2 separate regions of the Homo sapiens genome follow, and region 2 is linked to region 1. Evidence: fine-mapped expression QTL. A gene starts in region 1. The other region holds a variant in brackets. All regions are shown on one strand. Distances are from middle to middle. Region 1 holds the start of CCT5 (chaperonin containing TCP1 subunit 5). Region 2 overlaps CMBL (carboxymethylenebutenolidase homolog).

The links. PIP is the estimated chance that this variant, and not a neighbour inherited with it, causes the effect.
Region 2: its variant is fine-mapped to the expression of CCT5 in whole blood (TOPMed, PIP 0.99).

The regions. Positions count from the first base shown.
Region 1 is chr5:10,247,101-10,252,480 of GRCh38, reverse strand. CCT5 (chaperonin containing TCP1 subunit 5) reads right to left here and starts at 2,201. Exons shown (of 11, transcript NM_012073.5): 1 at 2,036-2,201. The coding sequence starts at 2,140. ATPSCKMT (ATP synthase c subunit lysine N-methyltransferase) reads left to right here and starts at 2,593. Exons shown (of 5, transcript NM_199133.4): 1 at 2,593-2,623. The coding sequence starts at 2,608. RefSeq lists silencers at 1,051-1,273, 1,604-1,743, 1,814-1,883, 2,634-2,693, 2,704-2,823.
Region 2 is chr5:10,298,242-10,303,621 of GRCh38, reverse strand. All of the region lies in intron 1 of CMBL (carboxymethylenebutenolidase homolog), which reads left to right. Among named protein-coding and RNA genes, the nearest start is that of CMBL, 7.0 kb to the left of the region's middle. RefSeq lists a silencer at 3,290-3,466. The variant G/A (reference allele first, on the strand shown) is at 2,629.

The DNA of each region.
Region 1 (5,380 bases):
ACCGCGCCCAGTCAATGCCTGCATTTTTAAGGTGAAATATTATACAGTTAAGTGTTAAACAAGTGAAGAATCTCAACAAAATACATATTACCTTTAAGGCTCTAAATGACCAGAGAGAAAGAACTGTGACCATTACCATTAAAACGTTCACGTCCTGGCCTATACATTTCTTTTACCGTTGCCTTCAATTTCCATATATTTTGGTTCTTCAAGTTAGCTGGACGTTCTATGAGGTCAGGGAGCAAGTGTATATCCCTAAACTGCTGAGCCTCAACACTCACAGGATGCCTACCAACAGCATCCAACTCTTTTAAGAGACTTAAACACCCAGGTTACTGTCCAAATGAGCTCCCACAGCAAAGAATGATCCGACCTCGAATGTCAATATGCCAAACTTGAGAATGCTGCTCTAGACCACTGGCTTTGACTCTGACAGCGGTGGCCCTGACCATGGTAATGCTCTTTAGTAGCAACTGCTCTTCAGAACAATTTCTCAACTGCTCTGGGCCCAAGTCCCCAGTTTTGTAAAATAACCCTGTCTCAGAGTGTGCGACTTCTGGGCACAAATGCATGCAGTTTGAACAAAATGGCTGATGCAAAACAACCTAGTTTTAGTTATGTTGTTACACCAGGTGTGTGTATTGGATGTTATTTTCTCTGCAGGTCCCTGTTAAGTGGAAAATAAAATGGAATACATAATACAATTAGCTTGAAACTTTTTCTTTCTAGAAAGGAAACAAATACTGAGTGCCTACCGTGGATCAACCACTGTGCAGCCCCTCTAAGTCACTCCATTTAATATCACTGTCAAGTCTTCAGCTTGACGGAGGCCTATCACCTCCCCCTGGAAAAGGAGGTTCCGCGAGGTTGTGTAACTAGCACTAAGTCAAACAAAGAGTCCATAGGGGAACTGTATTGTTTCTAACTTTGCGTAAGTAAACCTCCAAGACACTAAGTGAACAGGGACACCTGAGAGACCTAGTGGAATGGTCTATTATGAATTCACTTTATAACAAACCCTGAAGGCCCTCTCGGAGTGTCCCTTCCTCTGCATTTTCTGTCAACGTCTGGTGCTCAGATGTTTCTTACCTGCACCCCTGCCCTGGTTTCTTTAACCCCTCTGGTCTTCCTTATTCCCTTCGGTCTATCTCAAGCTTTGCTGCCTGAAGTGCAGCTCTACTGAAATTCTGCTCAAAACCCCCTCAATGGCTCCCCTTCTTCCCCAAAGATAACGTCGTATTTTCCATGTTGGGCATTCAATAGCTTCCACCTTCGGGAACTATTGTAAGTTAAAGAAGTCAGTGCTCCATTAAAACCGGATGGCTCTTCCATTCTACAACGTGCCATGCGCATTCTTGCCCAAGCCTTTACTTCTACCGTTTCCTCTCCCTAGAATGCTACCTCTCACCCCGATCTAAAGCTGTCCTCCAGCACCACGCTTATGTGCACCCTCTCCGTAGCTGTCCTTCTCACTGCACACCACCTTGTATTACGGTTATGTGCGTCCGTTTTTCACTCTTCGCTATTTTTCCTCAAGGGTGGGCAAAAAAGCACTCAGAAATGAAATACCCTGTTAAGTGACCACACCTTTACGAGTGACAAAGAAAACGGAAGGGCCGTTGCGGGTGGACCAGCGAAAGGTTAAGCAGCAGCGCCTTAACCGACAGGTGACAGAGCATCTCCCCGGCGCCCTCCCACTGGAGCGCAGTCCCACGCGGCCGTCAGGCTGGAGGAGCCGGGCGGGGAGGCGGTCCCGCTTTGCTCCCGCGGGCGACCGGACTGAGCGGCCCCACCCAGCTCCGAAGGGCGCTGGCGGCCCAGCCTGGCTGGCCCCCACATTCCGAGCCCAGGATTAGGCGCCGGCGTCTCCCGAGCTCAGTAAGCGGGCTGAGCGGCCGGAGACCGCAGGGAGACGGAGATTCTCGACCTTTCCGGGGAGCACATGGCAGAGCCGCTCCTCAACTCGCGCAGGCGCAGAGCCACGGCCTCGGCCACCTCCCCTTAGCCCACCGCGAGCAGGTCCCTGTGCCATTACCTTGAGGGCCTCAAGTCCCATAAGACGGGACTTGCGGTCCTGATCCTTGATGATGAGGAAAGGGCGCCCATATTCATCGAAGGCGAGGGTCCCCATGGACGCCATGGTGCAACAACCGGAATTACTTCCCCCCAACCGGCGGAGACCGCTACGGAAGCGAGAATGCACTTCCCTTTCTCGGGAGGGCCCAAAAGCTTGCGCACGCGCAGCACAAGACGCGCGGGACTTATGTTTCTACTGAGACTAATTTCACGCCAGACAGTATCTTCTGGAATCGGCGGCCTTCGGGAACTTCTATTATCCAGGAAGCCGGGGAGGGGGAGGTTTGAAGACACTTAGTGGAAATCTTAGGACACACAAGTCAAGAGCAGATTGAATTTGTCATTTTTTAAAACGTTACCACTGATAGTTTCTCGATAGTGGGTCCCAAGGAGGAATTCATTGACTTAAAGCACTATTTCTTTATTTCTTCGCACTCCGGCTCCGAGAAGATGGTAGGACCCATTTCCGGTTTTTTTTTTTTTTTTTTTTTTTTTTTTTTTTTTTTTAAAAACGCTGTTGGAAATCTCGCGATGGAGGGAGGAGGAGGTGAGGCTGGAGCGGCTTGGCGGGTTCCTGGGGGCATGAGAAGGGGTGCGGGCGGGCCGGGGGCTCGCGGTCAGCTGAGGTCTCCACTGTCGAGGCGGTGACCGGGTGCGGGCGGCTGCTCTGGCCTCCAGCCTGGCCTTCGGTGACCAGAGCTCCTGGTCGCCGCGCGGTGCCCGCGCCGGTTCTGGCGATCCTTGTCGGCGGGCGCGTTTCCCCAGAGACTGTTCTAGGCTACTTAGTGCAAGTGACTCAGCCTTTGGCACGATCTTAAGGAATAGGGATAGTGGAGGCACACTGATGGATTGGAATCGCAGTTCTGCCGCTCTTCCTAGCTGTGGCTTTGAGGAAATCCCTTAACTTCTTTGTCCCTCGGGTTCCCTGTCTGCAAAGTGACGGTGGTAACAGTAGTGCCTACTCACAGGGCTGCTGTGAGATTCAAGGAGAACGGTGCCTGGCAAGCTGAACACAGTGTTGGTAAATAAATTAACATTTTGCACAAATGGTTCAGTAACTTGCCACTGGTATACAGCTAGTAAGAAACAGTTACACAGCCTGATGCAATGGGTCCCACACTCTTTTTTTTTTTTTTTTTTTTTGAGACAAGACTGTAGCCCGGGCTGGAGTGCAGTGGCGCGGTCTCGGCTCACTGCAGCCTCCGCCTCCCGGGTTCCAGTGATTCTCGTGCCTCAGCCTCCCAGGCAGCTGGGACTACAGGCACAGAACCACCACGCTCGCTAATTTTTGTATTTTTAGTAGAGACGGTGTTAACGCCGTAGTGGCCAGGCTGGTCTCGAACGGCTGACCTCAAGTGATGTACCCGTCTAGGTCTCCCCAAGTGTTGGGCCTGAGCCACCGCGGTGCCCGGCAGGTCTCACTCTTAAGCCCTGTATTATGCTGCCTCAGAAAGATCTTGGCAACCGCAGCTGTCCTCTAAATCTCTTATGCTGCCTTCCTCCCCGCCCTCCAAGATCATGACTTAATATTTGATAGGTTTAGATTTATTTGTTGAGGGTTTCCATCCTTGCTTCTCCCCTACTGCCATGGGCAGGGACTTAACTAATAAAGTTGTATTATTCCCAGACTTTATTAGGCACTCAATAAGTGCTGAAATGAATACATGCACTATAACATTTGACCCTGTCCTGAAACTCAAGAACAGACTTGGCGACTGTGTTCCCATCTACTCTGGGGCTGAGGCAGGAGGATGGGTGGAGCCCAGGAGTTCAGTTTACAGTGCGCTATAATCGCGCCACTGCACTCCATCCTGGGCGACAGAGCGAGATTCTGTCTCTAAAAACAGGGAGGACTGACTGTCATGGGATGGTTGGTGATCTGTTAACTCTTCATGCTTGGCATACTTACGCGCTAGACCTTGAAGTGTTCTTCAAGGACATTTTAGATTTTGGAGTCAGGTCTTATTTCACGTTAGCTTTGCCAATTCAGTGTTTCCTCATTAAAAATGGTGACTTCTGCAATTCATTTGGCTCCTTCGATTGTTGTGAAAAATAGAATGTCCTATGGCATCCTCTGTGTAGTTGATTCCCTGTCAAAACACTGGGGAGTGAGAGAGGATTTTTCCTAATATCAATAGCTCATGTATGTCAAAAGGACACAAATGACATTAGACTAGTATAAGAAAGGCTTCTTAAGGACATAAGAATATATGCTAAAGGGACATAACATATGCTGTAGTTATTAAACAGGTATGCACATACAAGTGCACAATGAACAGTCCTTATGAGTTGTGACATTCTGATATAAGCCCGCTTTAAACACGTGGCTAGTTACTATTCCTAACAGGCTCCTTCTCTCTTCTTGGCCTTTTTCTTTTGGCTTGAACTTGGATAAGAACCTTGGGTACCTTATTGTACATCTGTCACTGCCTCTAGCTTCAGCTGATCCAAATCTGCCACTAAAAATTGAAGTTTTCAACCAATATTAGAAGTCAATAAGCAAGCAGGGCCCGGACACAGTAGAAGTTAACCTCATTCTGTGTTTGACTTTAAAGGATGGACTACTAAGTGCTCAATGAAAGTAGCCAGTGGCCACTGCAGCCATTATTTAATAGAATGGCTCCTTGTTCCAAAGAACACCTGAAAGAAAGTTCTTGCCATTTATATATAGGATAGTCTGGGAGTCTGAACATGTTCCGTTAGAAGGATTTGTAGAAACAGTCTTGATTTTAGTTTTGAATATTCAGGGCCTGATTTTTACTGATAAGAATCAATACAGGTCCTGGCATGGAGGCACTTTAGGAGGCTGAGGCGAGAGAATTGCTTGAGCCCAGGAGTTTGAGACCAGCCTGGGCAACATAGGGAGACCCTGTCTCTAAAGAAAAAAATTTAAAAAATTAGCTGGGTGTGGTGGCATGTGCCTGTAGTCCCAGCTACCTGGGAGGCTGAAGTGGGAGGATCGTTTGAGCCTGAGAGGTCAAGGCTGTGGTGAGCTGTGATTGTGCTACTGCACTCCAGCCTGGACGACAGAGTGAGACCCCATCGCAAAAAGGAATCAATTGTTTTTCCTGAATGGAGCTAACAATGTAGTTCCTATATTGTACATCCTATATTGGATGTACATAGTAACTTCTTCCAAAGCTCCAGCAATGGGTATGGATCTTGATTTCCCCATGCAAATGTTTGTTACGTTGCAAGACTTGCAGGCATCAAAACCTGGGACAGAAAATAGAATGATTTCATCAAGAGACTCATTGCCCCTGTGTTGCCTTTCTTAAAAACACAAATATTATGGTGACTTTGC
Region 2 (5,380 bases), 51 kb before region 1:
GGGGCTTAGAGTTTTTAGTTTACACTTTCCAGTGCTGCATTTGTGCTCTTTTGATTTTCCTTCAAGCCTGTTAGAACATCTGTTAGTTTTTTCCTGTCGTTCAAGTAGAGTACAATCCTCAATGTTGTTTGTTTTTATATCTGTTGAAGAGTGATGGTTTTACTTCTTTCTGAAAATTATCTTTTAATAAATACATGTGTTGTTGACAGAAGGAAGTCAAACTCTGTAAAATGTTTGAAGAGGTTTATTCTGAGCCAAATGTGAGGACCATGACCCATGACACAGCCCCCAGAGGGCCTGAGAACATGTGCCCAAGGTGGCTGAGTTACAGCTTGGTTTTATACATTTAGGGAGACATAGGAACTCGATCAATACATGTGAGGTATACATTGGTTCAGTCTGGAAAGGTGGGACAACTCAAAGATCGGGGATGGCAGGGTCAGGGTGGTAGCTTACAGGTCACAGGGGGATTCAAAGGTTTTCTGATTGGTGCTTGGTTGAAAGAGTTAAATTAATAATGAAAGACCTGGAATCAATAGAAAGGAGGGTCTGGGTTAAGATAAGAGGTTTGGGAGACCAAAGTTCTTATTATGTAGGTGAAGTCTCATAGATGGCTACCCTTAGAGGCAATAGATAGCAAATGTTTTCTGTTCAGACCTTTAAAAGCTGCCAGACTCTCAGGTAATCTTTTCAGGATCAGAAAGAGACCTGGAAAGGGAAGGGGATTCTCTACAGAATGTAAGTTTCCCCTACAAGAGATAGCTTTGCAGGGCCCTTTCAAAATATGTCAAAAATATTTTGGGGTAAAATACTTGATTTGTTTCAGGGCCTGCTGTCTATATCCTTGGATGCTGTATTTGAGTCAGGTTGGAATTTCATACCTTATTTCTACAAAAAGTCTGTTTCGTCAGTCTTGAGACCTCTGTTTGAATGTTAATGCTGGTCATTTGTGCCTGAACTTCAATGGAGGAGGGAATAATGAGGTATGTTGGACTCCTCCTTCCTGTCTTTTTTTTTTTTTTGAGACAGAGTCTCGCTGCAACCTCCTGGGTTCAAGCGATTCTCCTGCCTCAGCCGCCCAAGTAGCTGGGATTACAGGTATGCACCACCATGCCTGGCTAATTTTTTTTTTTTTTTTTTAGTAGAGACAAGGTTTTGCCATGTTGGCCAGGCTGGTCTTGGATCCTTGCCTCAAGTGATCCACCAGCCTTGGCCTTCCAATGTGCTGAATTATAGGCATGAGCCACTGAGCCTAGCCCCTCCTTCCTGTCATGGCCTGAATTAGTTTTACAGGTTTCTTTGGAATCGCCTTGGCCAAGAGGAGAGGTCCATTCAGTTAGTTGGGATGCTTGGAATTTTATTTTTGGTTTACAGTGCATTTGCAGGAGGAAGCTAAAATCCTGAAAGGTATATACAGAAAATATAGTACAGTTAGTTGAGAGTCAAGGGTATGTTCCCTGAGACTTGCCAGGGTAGAAACTGTTCGCCCTGCCCATTGTGGACTTGGCCCCTGGCACAAGGCGTGGCCTGGCTGCTGTGCCCACGTGGAGGGTCTGGGCAGGAGTCCAGCCTTCGACACACACGGGCGTCTCCTGTAGGAGAATAACCTTGCAGGATCAGCCTAGAGGGCTGCTCGCCTGGCTGTAAGCATTCCTTTTGCAAAATGGATGTCAACTGAAAATAAAGTAAAAACATTCAGATTAGAGGCTTCCTGGAATGGCCAGGATTTTCTGTGATCCCTAGGTCCTCATAGCCAACAAACAGCCCAGATAAGAAGTCAGCCCAGATAAGAAGTCAGCCCAGACCAGCCTGGCGAACATGGTGAAACCCCGTCTCTACTAAAAATATAAAAATTAGCCGGGCATAGTGGCGGGCACCTGTAGTCCCAGCTACTTGGGAGGCTGAGGCAGGAGAATCGCTTGAACCTGGGAGGCGGAGTTTGCAGTGAGCGGAGATCGTGCACTGCAATCCAGCCTGGGTGAGAGAGCGAGACTCCGTCTCCAAAAAAAAAAAAACCCGAAAAGAAAAAGAAAAAAAGAAAGCTCTACAGGCCTGAACTTGCTGCTTGTGTCTGAGGGGTGGGGCAGTCTTGGAACTGAGCCCTCACTGCCCCACGCGCCCCCACCCCTTACCTTTGGTCATGGTGTTGATGATCGCTGTATTGTGAGAGCAGAGGGAAACATGGCTTGAGAGTTTTTCTGAAATGGTGTCAAATGACAATGTTGAATTATTGAGTCTTACTAATTATAGTTCTATAATGTAGCTTATGAAAACCAAACCAAGAAAACTACAGTCCAGTTGTCCTTGATTGGATAACTAGTTATTAATTTCTTTCTTCTCAAAATCTAATTACTTTATTTCTAATTATGAAACACTAAGAATATTCAGTAATGTGAAGGGAATTATATAACAGCCACCCTTTCACATCACCCATATTTGAAAGATAATACCCTTTTGCCCTATATACTTCAAATCAAAACTTTTTAGGGAAATAAAACATAATAAAGCCCACGATCTCCATTTTTTCTCCCCTCTCTTCCCGGTAACCAATTGTCCTAATGGTGATAATTCATTCTCATGCGTGATACTTTTCCTACAGTATATTTATGAATAAAATGTATATTTTTG[G/A]TTGTTATTTATTTAGCATCAAAATGTATGTTTTTTGGTTGTTATTTAGAATCAAAATGCTATGTCTTTTTACATAGCATTATGTCTTTGAGATTTTTCAAGTTTTGTATTTCTATTTTTAAATAAAAATAAATATATAAAAAATATAAATATATATAAATAAATATATAAAAAATAAATAAATAAAAATAAAAATAAAAATGTCTCTCTTTGTTGCCCAGACTGGAGTGTAGTGGCATGATCATAGCTTACTGCAGCCTTGAATTCTTGGGTTCAAGTGATCCTCCTTTCAGTCTTCTGAGTAGCTGGGACTACAGGTGCATGCCACCATGCCCGGCTAATTAAAAAAATTTTTTTGTAGAGACGGGGTCTCCCTATGTTGCTCATGCTGGTCTCATACTCCTGGCCTCAAGCTATGACCATGCCTCGACCTCTCAAAGTGCTGGGATTACAGGCCTGAGCCACCATGCGGGTCTGGAGATTTATTATATTGATAAATTACAGGTGCAGCCTGTTCATCGAACTGTTGTGTAATATTCTTTTTATGAATGTATTTGTTTTCTAGGGCTGCCATAACATTACCAGATACTGGGTGACTTAAAGCAACACAGTGCCTCATAGTTCTGGAGGCCAGGAGTCCAAATTGAAAGTGTCAGCAGGGCTCTGCTCTTTCTGAAACCTGTAAAGGAGAGCCCTTCCTTGCCTATTCCAGCGTCTGGTGGGGGGCCAGCAATCCTTGGCTTGCAGGTGCATCCTTCCCATCTCCACCTCCATCTTCACACGGCCTTCTCTTCTGTGCGTCTGTTGTGTCTTTGTCCACGTTTTCCCCTCCTTAGAAGGACACCAGTCATTGGATTTATGGTCTACTGTACTCCAGTATGACCTCATCTTAACTACAGGACATCTGCAAGGACCCTGTGTCTAGTTAAGGTCACATGCACGGGGAGTGGGGGATAGGACTTAAACATGTATTTTGGGGGAATACAATTCAACCTACATCAATCAATAAATTACAGTTTATTCATTCTCCTGTTGATGGTCAATTAGATTGGTTCCAGGTGTTGTCATCATATTAGTGGTGCCAAGAACATTTTTCCATAATCACTGCATGTGCCTGTGTGGGCATGTGCAAATTTCTCTCTCTCTCTCTCTTTTTTTTAGATAGGGTCTCACTCTTAACACCAAGCCTGGAGTGCAGTGGTGCAGTCTTGACCTCCTGGGCTCAAGCAATCCTTCCACCTCAGCCTCCTGAGTAGCTGGGACCACAGGTGCACACACCACCATGCCTGGCTAATTTTTCTGCTTTTTTTTTTTTTTGGAGAGATGGGGTTTTACCATGTTGCCCAGGATGGTCTCGAACTCCTGGGCTCAAATGATCCCCCCGGCCTTGGCCTCCCAAAGTGCTGGGATTACAGGCATGAGCCACCATGTCCCACCACATGTGACATGAATTTCTCTAGGGAAACATCTAGTGGTGGGATATCTAGGGTGCGGGGCATCTGCTTCTTTAACTTTGCTAGACTCCTTCCAGGGTTTGTATCATTTCACATGCCCTCCCATTTCCCTACAAGTGTACCATCATCTCTGTGTTAACAGACTTTTGCCAATCTGCAAGATGGAAAATAGTATTTCATTCTTGTTTTTATTATAGTTTCCTTAAGAACAGTGAGGTTGAATATCTGTTCATATGTTTATGGGCCATTCAGGTGTACTTTTTTGTAAATTGCCCATTCATATGAATTTTTCTATTGGGTTGTCTTTTTCTTGGTGACTTATAAGAATTCTTTATATATTTTATCTAGACACTAAGTCCTCTGTTCCTAAAATAATACCTTCTCCTAGTCTATCTTGTTTTCTCACTTTGTTTATGGAGACTTTTATCTTGATATTAATGTTAATCATTATCTTATTAATCTTTCATCTTAGTTACTATCTTATTAATGCAATTTTAAGAGCTTTTTGTCATGGAAAATCTCAAGCATATATAAAAGTAGAGAGATTAGTACACAGGACACTCCAGCTGCACCACCATCAGCACGTGGACACCTTGTCCACCCTACCCCACATGGAGCTATTTTGGGTTTTTGTTTGTTTGTTTTTTGAGATGGAGTCTTGCTCTGTCGCCCAGGCTGGAGTGCAGTGGCGCGATCTCGTCTGACTGCAGCCTTTGCCTCCTGGATTCCAGTGATTCTCATGCCTCAGCCTCCGGAGTAGCTGGGATTACAGGCGCTCACCACCATGCCTGGCTAATTTTTGTATTTTTAGTAGAAACGGGGTTTTGCCATGTTGGCCAGGCTGCTCTCGAACTCCTGACCTCAGGTGATCCACCAGCCTTGGCCTCCCAGAGTGCTGGGATTACAGGTGTGAGCCACCGCACTCAGCCCAAATGGGGCTATTCTGAAGTAAATCCCAGACCTCTGGTCATGTCATCTGTGGGTACATCATGATATCATGATGCATCTATGAAAGACAAGGACTCAAAAACACATGGCTGCAATGCCATCATCTTCCCCTGCCAAAATTCACAATAATTTGCAATTTCATCAAATATCCACTTAGTATTCAGTTTTCTGCAGTTGTCTTTCCTTTTTTTTTAAATTGGTTACCATGAAATGGGATTTATAATCCTTTTCTTTATGGTTTATGTTTTTTGGGTCAAATTTAAGAAATTCTGCCTTATTCCAAAGTACAAGAAAAAAGTATTCAGTATTTCCTTCTGATTGTTGAAATTTCGCCTTTCCTACTTAGATTT